2 separate regions of the Homo sapiens genome follow, and region 1 is linked to region 2. Evidence: fine-mapped expression QTL. A gene starts in region 2. The other region holds a variant in brackets. All regions are shown on one strand. Distances are between the middles of the regions.

Region 1 (5,376 bases), 76 kb before region 2:
ACACATGGGTGCCTACACCCAGGGACCTGTTCCTGAGGCCAGACGTGTAGGTGGAAAGGTTCTGCTGGCTCACAATCACAGACAAGCAGGGCAGCCATGTCTGCAGAGCCCTGTAGGGTCACCACATCCTGCCCCAAATTATGACTGACAAAGGGCAGACATTATACTCCAGGATGACACTCTGCAGGGACTCACCCAGATTATCTGCACCTCTAGGGATGATCACATCAGCATACTTCTTTGTCTGTGGAGAAAGACAGTTAATATGCATTAATACAGTTAAGAGACAACTGGCCCGAGACCCTCTCCAAGGGAATATGGGGAAAGGGCAGCATTCATACTAGCGAGCCCAGAAGAGCACCTTTTAAGGCTTCAAATATAATATTGTTTACAACTTCACAGTGAATGCATCTATTAATAGAAATTTGGGGAAACCTAAGGAAGTGCCTTGTTTAGCTGAAATGTGAATGAAAGAAGATAAGCAGGGAATGAGGAAAATGAGAAAGAAGGATTGAAGACTTTCATGCATCAGTGAGGGAAAATGGTCCAGACTGAGTGGTTAATCCAAAACCAGTTCATAATTCGATTGATAACTATCTACCATGGATTTTTATCCACTTTATCTACATTACAAGAATTTAGCTTTTATTCAAATTCTCTCTCACTCTCTCTTTTTTTTTTAAGACAGCGTCTCACTCTGTCACCCAGGCTGGAGTGCAGCGGCATCATCACAGCTCACTGCAGCCTTGACTTCCTGAGTTGGGGAGATCATCCCACCTCAGCCTCCTGAGTAGCTGGGACTACAGGCACCCGCCACCACACCCAGCTAATTTTTGTTATTTTTTATAGAGAGGGGGTATCGCCATGTTGCCCAGGCTGGTCTCAAACTCCTGGGCTCAAGCGATCCACCCACCTGGGCCTCCCAAAGTCCCAGGATTACAGGCGTGAGCCACTGCACCCAACCAAGTTCTCATTTCTAACGCTGAACACTGTTTCAGCTTATGACCTATGCAGAGAACATGGTCTTTGAAGCCAAACACTTAATTGCCTCTATTCCACTAGGACAAATATGAACTAGAAAAACCCAAACTTTCCAGGGGACTGGTTCACCTTGGACTTTTACACATAGTCTGAAACATGACACTGTTCACTCCTAGCACAGGGTAAAACCAGAAAAAGTATTCTTCACTGATGACCAGTTCATAGGTTCTATTATTACCCAATTTTTAAAGAAAGAAAGTCAGGCCACAAAGAGGCATATTTCTTTTTTCTTTTTCTTTTTTGTTGGTCCAAATTTACTGAGATTTTGTAGACCATTCTACAAGTAACTGCATCCTGGCATACAAACTAAGTCTAGCATAAGAACACATAAACCACACCTCAAGCATGTGGGCATCTTACTCTGTGCAGCCTCTGCCCTAGGATTGCTGAAAGGCAACGGTGTCAGCCCCAAACCCAACTTGAACTGAGCAGACATTTATCAGGTCCAAGTTCCTGGCTTACAGGGGAATGAGCTGATCTTCCCTGAGCAAAGAGTGGCTGGACAGTGGAAGCAAGCAGAAATAACCCAGAAAACGTCTGCAGAATTTTTAGCTTTGTTACAACTAAGTTAAACGTAGAAAACTGACAGTTAAATATGACTGATATCCAATAATAAATTCATTTTGTGTTCTTATTAAGTCAAAAATAACAGGAGAGGTCCTCAGATAGATAACTGGGTGGAAAGAAGTTCACAGCTCCTCAGCCCCCTCTGGTCTCTTTCCAGTAACCTACTCTTGTAACTCAATAGTCTCCAGGGCAATGGATAGGGCATCAATGTTACTCAGTTGGCTCAAAAAGTCCACCTGTCCCGCATTTAAACCAAAGTCAAGTATGGGTTGCTGTAAAAGCTAGTAACATCCTTAAAGAAACAAAGACAGTTTGAGATATTTTCCCAGAAGAAAAAGAATGAAGTTTATTGTTAGAATAAATAGGGAAATTCCAATACCCAGCCTTACTCTAAATCTTCAATGTCTTCAGAGATTCCAGCCTTCCCAGTGTATCTCAACCAAGACCAGGTTAAGTCCCAAGCTCTTCCTTCCCTTCCTCCCGGTCTCAGAGCTTAACTATAAATAATTCAGGAGCCAGACCATGGTTTGGCCAAGCTGGAGAAGACTCATTGACTCAGTAGGATTCTCCTGAGTTAAATACTTCTCCTTCTGCAGCCCCAGCACACCACACCTCTTGTCTCTGGTAGCCTTCCCTCAACATGCCCCTTCCTGTCTTTCCTGGGCTGAGGGCCAACTCTCTGTGTTCTTCCTTCTCTGAAAGCCACCTCACTAGAGAATTCCTAGCTGCCACAGGAAGGACTGGTGAGTCTGCAAGGGTGAAGGGAAGGAAGCTTATTCCAGTAAGGCATGACAGTCTCCAAATGGGAGCTAAAGACAAGCTCAAAGCAGGGCTCAGTGGTGATGGCAGGAGAGGCTCAGAGGGGAACATCTCGGGGCACAGCACCCA[G/T]TGCATCCATACGTCACCCATTGCAGACCCTTCAGAGATCCAAATGGCTGAGGACTCTCCTTGGATATGATACACCCTCAGTAAACGGTCTCACACCATGACCCCACCAAGCAAGAAACCTAGAACTAGCTGGGAATTAAATGACCTGCCTAAGGACTGGCAGGACCCTACAGGGCTACCCAAAGAAAGAACAGCAGGACAGGGCTCCTGGAGAACACAGAGGACACAAGGACCAAGGGCTGCCCTCTCTTAGGACTTCAGGACAGAGGATCACTCAGAGAGAGGAGTGAGATTCAGGCAGGGGAGCTCCACAAACTTGCACACCTTCGTTTATATCATCAAATTTTAAATTCTACATTCAACAAAAACAAACCAAGAACACAACTCACTGGCAAGCAGAATTCCTCAAAGGCAGGCTTGACGAACGTAATGTACTGAGATAAAATCTGCTCAAGATCCCTGCCTCTCTCGCTGATGTCCCTTAATACTGTAAGAGAAGGGAAAACAAGAATCAAAAAACGGTGTAGGAGCCAGCACACACCCGCCCTTCATGGGGTGGACCTAGCTCCCACAGGCTCCACAATTACTCTAGATGATTCTCAAGCTGGAATCCTGAGAGGCTTGACCAAGAGCAGATCAGCAGCGGCTTCGGAAAAGACAAGTTACATTCTGACATCTTACAATGGTCAAACTTGGCAATGACACAATGCTCTTTGAAACAAAAGGCTGTCCATGGAGGCCAACAGCCTTCTTGTTTCAAGCAACATTTGCTCCAAACAAAATTTCAGTGTGAATTTTTTAAAAAAGCAGGGCACTCCTGGAGAGCTCACTGTTAACAAGAAGCAATCTGGGCCCCGAGAGGGCTGGGCTGCACGCTGCCTCCTTGCATGCACTTACCTGCGTTCAGAAGTCCAGCGACCCACTGATCAGGCATCAGCTCACTGCTCCCAGCTCCCACCCATGCCCCCTCTGCAGCATGGAGCCCAGGCCAGGCTGAGGACCCAGCCATGGTTAACCATTTCCACCTACCTCATGCACAGAGGTTTGCCAAAAAAAAAAAAAAAAAAAAAAAAAAATCACTCAGTGAAAGATAAGAAAACCATGGCCTAGAGAATGGTGGGCTGGGGCTGAGATGAAGCCCAAATTGACAACAAACTCACCATCTTCTGTCTTCTACCTTCTTCCCCCGGTCAGTTTTATCCAGGGGCTTTTACCATTCTTTTTTTTTTTTCTTTAAAAAATTTTTTTTTCTTTTAATACAAGGTGTCTTGCTCTGTCACACAGGTTGTAGTGCAGTAGCACAGTCATAGCTCACTACAGCCTCAACCTCCTGGGCTTGAGCAAGTGATCCTCCCACCTCAACTTCCCAAGTAGCTGGGACTACAGGCACACACCACCTCAATGGACTAATTTTTTGTTTGTTTGTTTTTGAGACAGAGTCTCATCACTCTGTCACCCAGGCTGGAGTGCAGTGGCGCGATCTCAGCTCACTACAACCTCTGCCTCTGGGGTTCAAGCGATTCTCCTGCCTCAGCCTCCCGAGTAGCTGAGACTACAGGCACCTGCCACCACGCCTGGCTAATTTTTTGTATTTTTAGTAGAGATGGGGGTTTCACCGTGTTAGCCAGGATGGTCTCGATCTCCTGACTTCCTGATCCACCCGCCTCAGCCTCCCAAAGTGCTGGGAATTACAGGTGTGAGCCTTTTTTTTTTTTTTTTTTGGTAGACACGGGGTCTTGCTTTGTTGCCCAGGCTAGTCTTGAATTCTTGGGCTCAAGTGATCCTTCTGCCTCGGCCTCCCAAAGTGCTGGAATTATAGGCAGCCCATACACTCTTTATTAAATAGAGTCTTCTGTCAATAAATAGAAAGAAGACTGATCACCCTCATTCTGCCGCTGTACATGAGCCTTAGTTTCCCCATGAGTAGGGAGTTTGGAAGTAGATTCTCTTAATTAAAACTGCCTCTCTTTGCAGATGTCATTTTAAATGCTATCTTAATCTAACCTTATCATCTGAGCTGCTAAATCTTTCACCCCAAAAAGTTACCACATCCATCTACAATCATTTGCAGTGGCTCTTCAGCTCCTTCCCAACCATTTCTCAGTAAATAGACTCAAATGTTGGGTGAAACTCACTGTAAACGAACATGGGGTATATCTGTGACGGAACTTCTGAAAGCCATTTGTCTAAATAATTCTGTCTTTATACACACATGCACAGGTGCATGCACAGAGAGGCCAGGGAACGGGGAGGCTGTCATGGCTATGATCCAGGCTGACAGGAAATCTATAAGATGAGAAGGTGAGAAAACTGTCAGGAAATCCACATTTCCAGAAAGCTGGGCACTAATGATGCTGCCATTCGACTTTTGTAACAGCTCCTCGATTTACGAAGTGTTTTCTCCATGGGAGACCTGGTAATAAAACAGTTGGCTGATCGCTAATGTGTCAGGACTTGCCCACCCAGCCCAGCAGCAGCCTTCTCCAGCCAGGAAATGGTTTTCCCCACCCCTGCAACGCTGGACCTGGGCTCCTGCTGCCGACCTGCTGCTCTGGCAGATCTGCTGGGAGACTCGCTAAGAAGGAGCCCTAAGGAGCTGCCACGTGGCTCACCCCCCAGAAGTCCCCAGAGCTCCGGCACACATGGCTAACCAGAGTAGCACCGCCAAAACACACAGCCAGCGCGGCCTCCAATTCTTCACACGTCTCCAGATAAAGCCCAAAGAAAAAAGGAAACCAGATCAAAAGGGTATCAGAGCTAGGGAAAAAACAAACACACCCGTGCTTGGGCAGCTTTTACTTAAAGCCCTGCAAACGCCTGATGCTGGATTGTTTTGCAACACATGCTTTTCATACAATTGCTGAAGGCTTTAGCACTGGA
Region 2 (5,376 bases):
GACCATCCTGGCTAACACAGTGAAACTCCGTGTTTACTGAAAATACAAAAACATTGGCCAGGCGTGGTGGCGGGCACCTGTAGTCCCAGCTACTTGGGAGGCTGAGGCAGAAGAATGGCATGAACCCGGGAGGCGGAGCTTGCAGTGAGCCGAGATCATGCCACTGCACTCCAGCCTGGGCAACAGAGCAAGACTCTGTCTCAAAAAAAAAAAATAATAAAAAAAATAAAGATTAAAAAGCCAGCCCAGGTAGTGGCTCACACCTGTAATCCCAGCACTTTGGGAGGCAGAGGCGGGCGGATCACTTAAGTCTAGGCATTTGAGATCAGCCTGGCAACATGGCAAAACCCCTTCTCTACAAAAAAAAAAAAATTAGTCGGGCATGATGGTGCAAGCCTGTAGTCTCAGCTACTCTGGAGGCTGAAGTGGGAGGATCACTTGAGCCCAACAGGTGGAGGGTACAGTAAGCCAAGATCTCACCACGGCACTCCAGCCTGGGCAAAAGAGTGAGACCCTGTCTCAAAAACAAAACAAATCAAACAAACAAAAAAATTAGCCAGTCATGATAGTGCCAGCCTGTACTCCCAGTTACTCCAGGTTGAGGCTGAGGCTGCAGTGAGCTGTGACAGTGCCACTTACTCTGGGCTAGGTGGAAATGCGAGACCTTGTCTCAAAAATTAAATTAATAAATAAAAATGTACAACATGCTTTGAAAACTGCAGAAAAACGGACCCTTCCTTTCTTGAGAGTTTCTACACTCTTCCTCCTGGATAAAAATAGCAGAGAATTAGCTACTCCCACATTGGCTCACCACTATCCCATCCCTCACTTTACCCAAGTAACACCAAAAGCTTGATTATCAAGTTAGAACAGGTGACGACTGAGAAACACACAAGAAGAACAATAACAGAGTTATTCACCTTTTAGGGTCGCAGTTTTCACCCTCGTGGTAACTAAATTATTCAGATGATTACCAAGATCATTTTGTTTCTAAAAGCTCATATGCAAGTTTAAGCCTCCTCCCCACTTTAGGAGGACTGGACTTCAGCTTAAAATTTGGACCCCACTACATGCCAGGCAGGCATTGTGCTAGGAGGGCTGGGAAAACAGCCATGAACAACAACAACAAAAAATGCTCCCAATCCAACAGGAATATGCCAGAAGAGCAAGAATAATTCTAAAAGAACAGGTAAAGCTTCCTGAAGGGCTAGCATTCTGGTTTTGCTTTGAATTACTAGTATAAGTCATAGTAAAGAACATACTCAAAAATTACAAATTTTTTTAAAAGCCTTCAACCAGGGAGCACACAGAACAGAAACTTCAGGACCTAAAGCAGGCCGATTCCTAACCCCGGGAGCTACGGACGAGATCAACTTCATCAATAAAGAAGTCCAGCAGCGCCAGCCGCCGTGTCTGGCTGGGCTCCTTGCGCTAAAGTAGTCCAGACCAGGAGGGAAAAATGTAAAACCAACATGGAGGAGGGGCTACTGACGAGTCGGTTCGGGAGCTAAAACCTCGTGGCTCTTTCCTCATGGCGCCAACCAGCCTTCCTGCTCTGCTCTCCCCAGCCGGGAGAAGCATCATCCTGCCTCTCCAAACCAGCACCCAGCACCCAGCTCTCAGGATCCCTTGAGGAACCCGTGCTCCAAATGAAGTTGGAGGGTGTTAAACGGTGGGAAAAACAAGTAGCCACATCTTAAAGGCTGTTAGGGGAGCAAAGAAAGAACCATCTGGGAGGACTCCACCCTTCTCCACCTGCAGAAAAAACCCCGGGTAAAGCTAGGAAGTCATTTCCCTTGTCTCTCCTTGCCTTGCGGATAAAACAAAGGAAACAGGCTCCTAAGAGGGTCAGACACCCATACGATGACCCCCTTCCGTGGATCCAAGACGCGTACGTCCTGGACACCGAAGAGCTTGGAGCCAGTACAACTTTCTCATTGAAGCCGACCACGTTTCCTCTTATAACCTTAAAAAACAGAAGCCCCTACTATTATCGTTTCATTGATGTCACGGCACCTATTTGGCTCTCAGACTTTTACCCGGAAACCCCTGTAATCCCCAGCCCTTGCGTGCAGCCCCACACTGGGCTCCCCTTCCCCGGGATGCCGCCTCGCGCGTTCCCGCCACCCTCGCCCTCTCGGCCGCGCTTCCCGGCTCGCTCCGCCCTCGGCACCAGGCTGCGCCGCGGGGCGAGCACGTCTGTGCCAGACCGGGGCTTGAGGGAGTCCATCGGGGGTTAGTGGGGGATCCTGCGGAAAGCCCTCTCCCCCGACACTGGAGTTGCAAAACAATAAGCATCCGCTTCCCTGCCCTTCCCCCATAGGACCCCGGCCACGAGTTATTAACGCGGGGGGAGAAAAGCCGGAGGAGCACTCCCGCCCTGCGATCGTGGCCGCGTACCCCCGGAACCCCCAAGGCCCGAGTCTTCGCCTGCCCCCGCCGCAGCGCCCCCAGGCCGCGCGGGGCGCACTCGGCGCTGGAGCGCGGCCGGGAGCGGAGGCGCGCGGGCCACGCGGTGGCTGCCGCAACTGACACGGCCCGCGGCCGCCGGCCACATGCGCCGCCCAGGGACAGAAGCCGGGAAGGGAGCGCGGCTCCGGGCCCCGCCGTACCTTGCCGCTAGCTGTTCCCCCGCTGACGCCTATAAGGAAGGGCTCGCCGCCGTTGGGCTGCTGGTGGTTCTGCAGGGTCTGCTCGCTGTCCCCGGCCATGGTTCGCGCCGCCCCTCCTCCCGCTGCCTGTGCGAACGGACGCACGCTCCCCGCCCGCGCCCGCGTCGGACTCCCTCCGCTTTCCGCAGCCGCCGCTGGGCGCTGCCGGGGCTGAGGCCGCTGTCGCTCGCCTGCGAGCCGCTCGGAGCCCGGTGACGGGGCTGGGTTTCCCGAAGGAGCCAAGAGCCTTCCTTTGCCCGCAGCGGCTGGTCCGGTTTACATCCCAGGCAGAGGTCAGCGTGATGCTGCTGCTCCAATCCGGGCGGGCAGCGCGCTGCTATTCGCCGAGGCGGAGGCGGCGAGGCGTCTGGCCCCAGCCTCCGCCCCTCCCGGGCCCCGCCGCCGCCCGAGGTCTCTGCGAAAGGTGTGAGCCCGACCTTCCCTCCCACCCGCCCGGTTAACCCTTTCTCCGACGCGCCCTAGTGGACCCTGGGGGAAAGAAACAGGCTGTTCTGTATTTTAATTTGGTATGCTACCACCTATTTTCAGAAGGGATAAAAAGCTTGAAGGAAATAATAGGCAGATTAGATAAGAAGGAATGGCCCAGGTTTGAGAAGCAAAATTTGAACAAGCTTGAAAGATTAGTGTGGAACGAAGAGTTAATGTCATTTACCCATTATCCAGGCTAAAAACTTGTGTTTCCAAAAAATGAGGGTTCTTTTTCCCTTCTCCCGTTCGCCAAGATAATATGTCAGCCGCTGGCTTTAGATATTTCCTGTCTTGGAAACCCCCCAGCGCCATCCTTTTTAGCAGGCCTGTCCTCGTGCGACTCTCTAGTGAAGGGCAATTTGAGGGGCTTATCTGAAGGGTGCCCTCCGTTGGAAAAGCAATTCCCTTCTAAACCACAGTATCTCATCCCATACACTGAGCTTCCTATGGAGTTAGGGTATCTGAAAACATACTGACATTTTGATCCATTAATATCTTCAATTGAACGGTTTTCCAGAGATTGGCAATCAGTCACTTAGAAAGGCAGTTTCAGACTCCACCTCTGGAGCCAGATTTCTGCATTCACATCCAGGTCCCTGAGCAAGTTACTTAATCTCTCTGTGCTTCAGTGTTCTTATCTGTTAAATGGGAATAATAATGGCAATTACATCCCAGGATTTTTGTGAGAATTAAATGAATTAGTGTATGTAAAGTTCTCAGAACAGTGCTGGTACAGTCTAGGCCCTGTATTAGTGTTTGAAGAGAAAAGGTTTCTAAAGCGCTGAAACTGGAAAGAAAAGTTTTGCTGGGACACACCTGAGAGAGGCAGGACTAGCCTAGTAACTTCCAGTCTCTTCTCCTGTGAACTTGGGACTAGTATCAATGAGCTGATGGGGCCTACAATCTAAAACAGAATTTACGTCAATAGCATTATCTTTTGAAACTTAGTAAATTACCTTAAATTGAAGATTATTTTGAAAAAAATAATTTTCTCTCAAGCCAGGGAAATCGAGGCTGCAGTGAGCCATGATCTCCCCACTGCACTCCAGCCTGGTCAGCAGAGCCAGAGCCTGTGTCAAAAAACAAAAACAAAAACAAAACAAAACAAAAAAAAGGATACCAGAGAAAACAAACTTTTTTCACTTTTAAATTAAAGTTGACACTTGAACAACACTGGTTCAAACTGTGAGGTTCACTTTTATGCAGCTTTTTTTTTAAACCAAGGGCAGATGGAAAACACAATATTTGTGCAGTTTCCTCAGGACTGACTGTGGGACTTCATGTGTGGATTTGGTTACATGTAGGCTGTCCTGGGACCAGTCCCTCCGCATATATCTAGGAATTACTGTATTTTATGTCACCATCTAACATCAAACTCGGTAGCAGCTCAGACAGGAGACAAAGATGGGGAGAGTGGCCACTACCTGGTACCCAGAAGCAGGCATTTGGGTGAAGTTTCCTAAAGGGGTGCCTTACCAAATAGCTATGGAGTGGGTGAGTTTTAGGTGGTCCTAGAGTTAGCCTCTTCTCCAAAAGGTCTTTTCTCTACTAGATAGATTTATTAGTCATCATGGACTTTTGTAGAACTCTTTATAGCCCATTGGAATTTGGAAGTTGAACCTACAGCTAAGGGTTAGCATGGGGATATTAGGTAGTTAAGGAGAAGAGGAGGAGGATAAAGGAATGCCAAAGGCCAGTGGGGTGGCTCATGCCTGTAATCCCAACATTTTGGGAGGCAGAAGAGTGAGGATCACTTGAGGCTAGGAGTTTGAGACCAGCCTGGGCAACATAATGAGACCCCCATCTCCACAAAAAGTACAAAAATTAACTGGGCATGGTAGTGCACACCTGTAGTCCCAGCTACACCAGAGGCTGAGGCAGGAGGATCACTTGAGCCCAGGAGTTCGAGGTTGCAGCTGTGATCATGCCATTGCACTCCTCTATCGACTTGTCTCTTAAAAAAAAAAAAAGAATGCCATGTCTTTCATAAACTTTTCTCAAATCTGCATCTTCCTTGTCATTCCTATAGTGTTTATTCCATAATATTTTATCATAAAAATTTTCGAGCACAGTTGAAAGATTTTACAGCAAACACCAGTATACCCACCACCTAGACTCTATCACTAACATCGTACTATATATATACTTGCTTTAAAACATAACTGGTCATCTACCCATCCCTCTATCCATCAAGGCATTTTTATTATAGGACTTACTTCCTTTTGCTTTGTTAATT

Which allele goes with the higher level. Positions count from the first base shown, and alleles are read on the strand shown. Sizes are in standard deviations (SD) of each study's normalised expression.
For the expression in cerebellar hemisphere of the gene that starts at base 2,931 in region 2, T is the high allele of the variant in region 1 and G is the other (moderate effect, 0.74 SD a copy in GTEx).

The links. PIP is the estimated chance that this variant, and not a neighbour inherited with it, causes the effect.
Region 1: its variant is fine-mapped to the expression of UCK2 in cerebellar hemisphere (GTEx, PIP above 0.99). The same link has a PIP of 0.9 or more in cerebellum.

What each region holds. Positions count from the first base shown.
Region 1 is chr1:165,900,789-165,906,164 of GRCh38, reverse strand. It overlaps UCK2 (uridine-cytidine kinase 2), which reads right to left. Exons shown (of 7, transcript NM_012474.5): 5 at 2,886-2,983; 6 at 196-244. Among named protein-coding and RNA genes, the nearest start is that of MIR3658, 4.4 kb to the left of the region's middle. RefSeq lists a silencer at 5,179-5,376. The variant G/T (reference allele first, on the strand shown) is at 2,497.
Region 2 is chr1:165,825,169-165,830,544 of GRCh38, reverse strand. UCK2 (uridine-cytidine kinase 2) reads right to left here and starts at 2,931. Exons shown (of 7, transcript NM_012474.5): 1 at 2,613-2,931. The coding sequence starts at 2,711. RefSeq lists silencers at 2,043-2,272, 2,333-2,812, 2,893-3,142 and an enhancer at 2,024-2,577.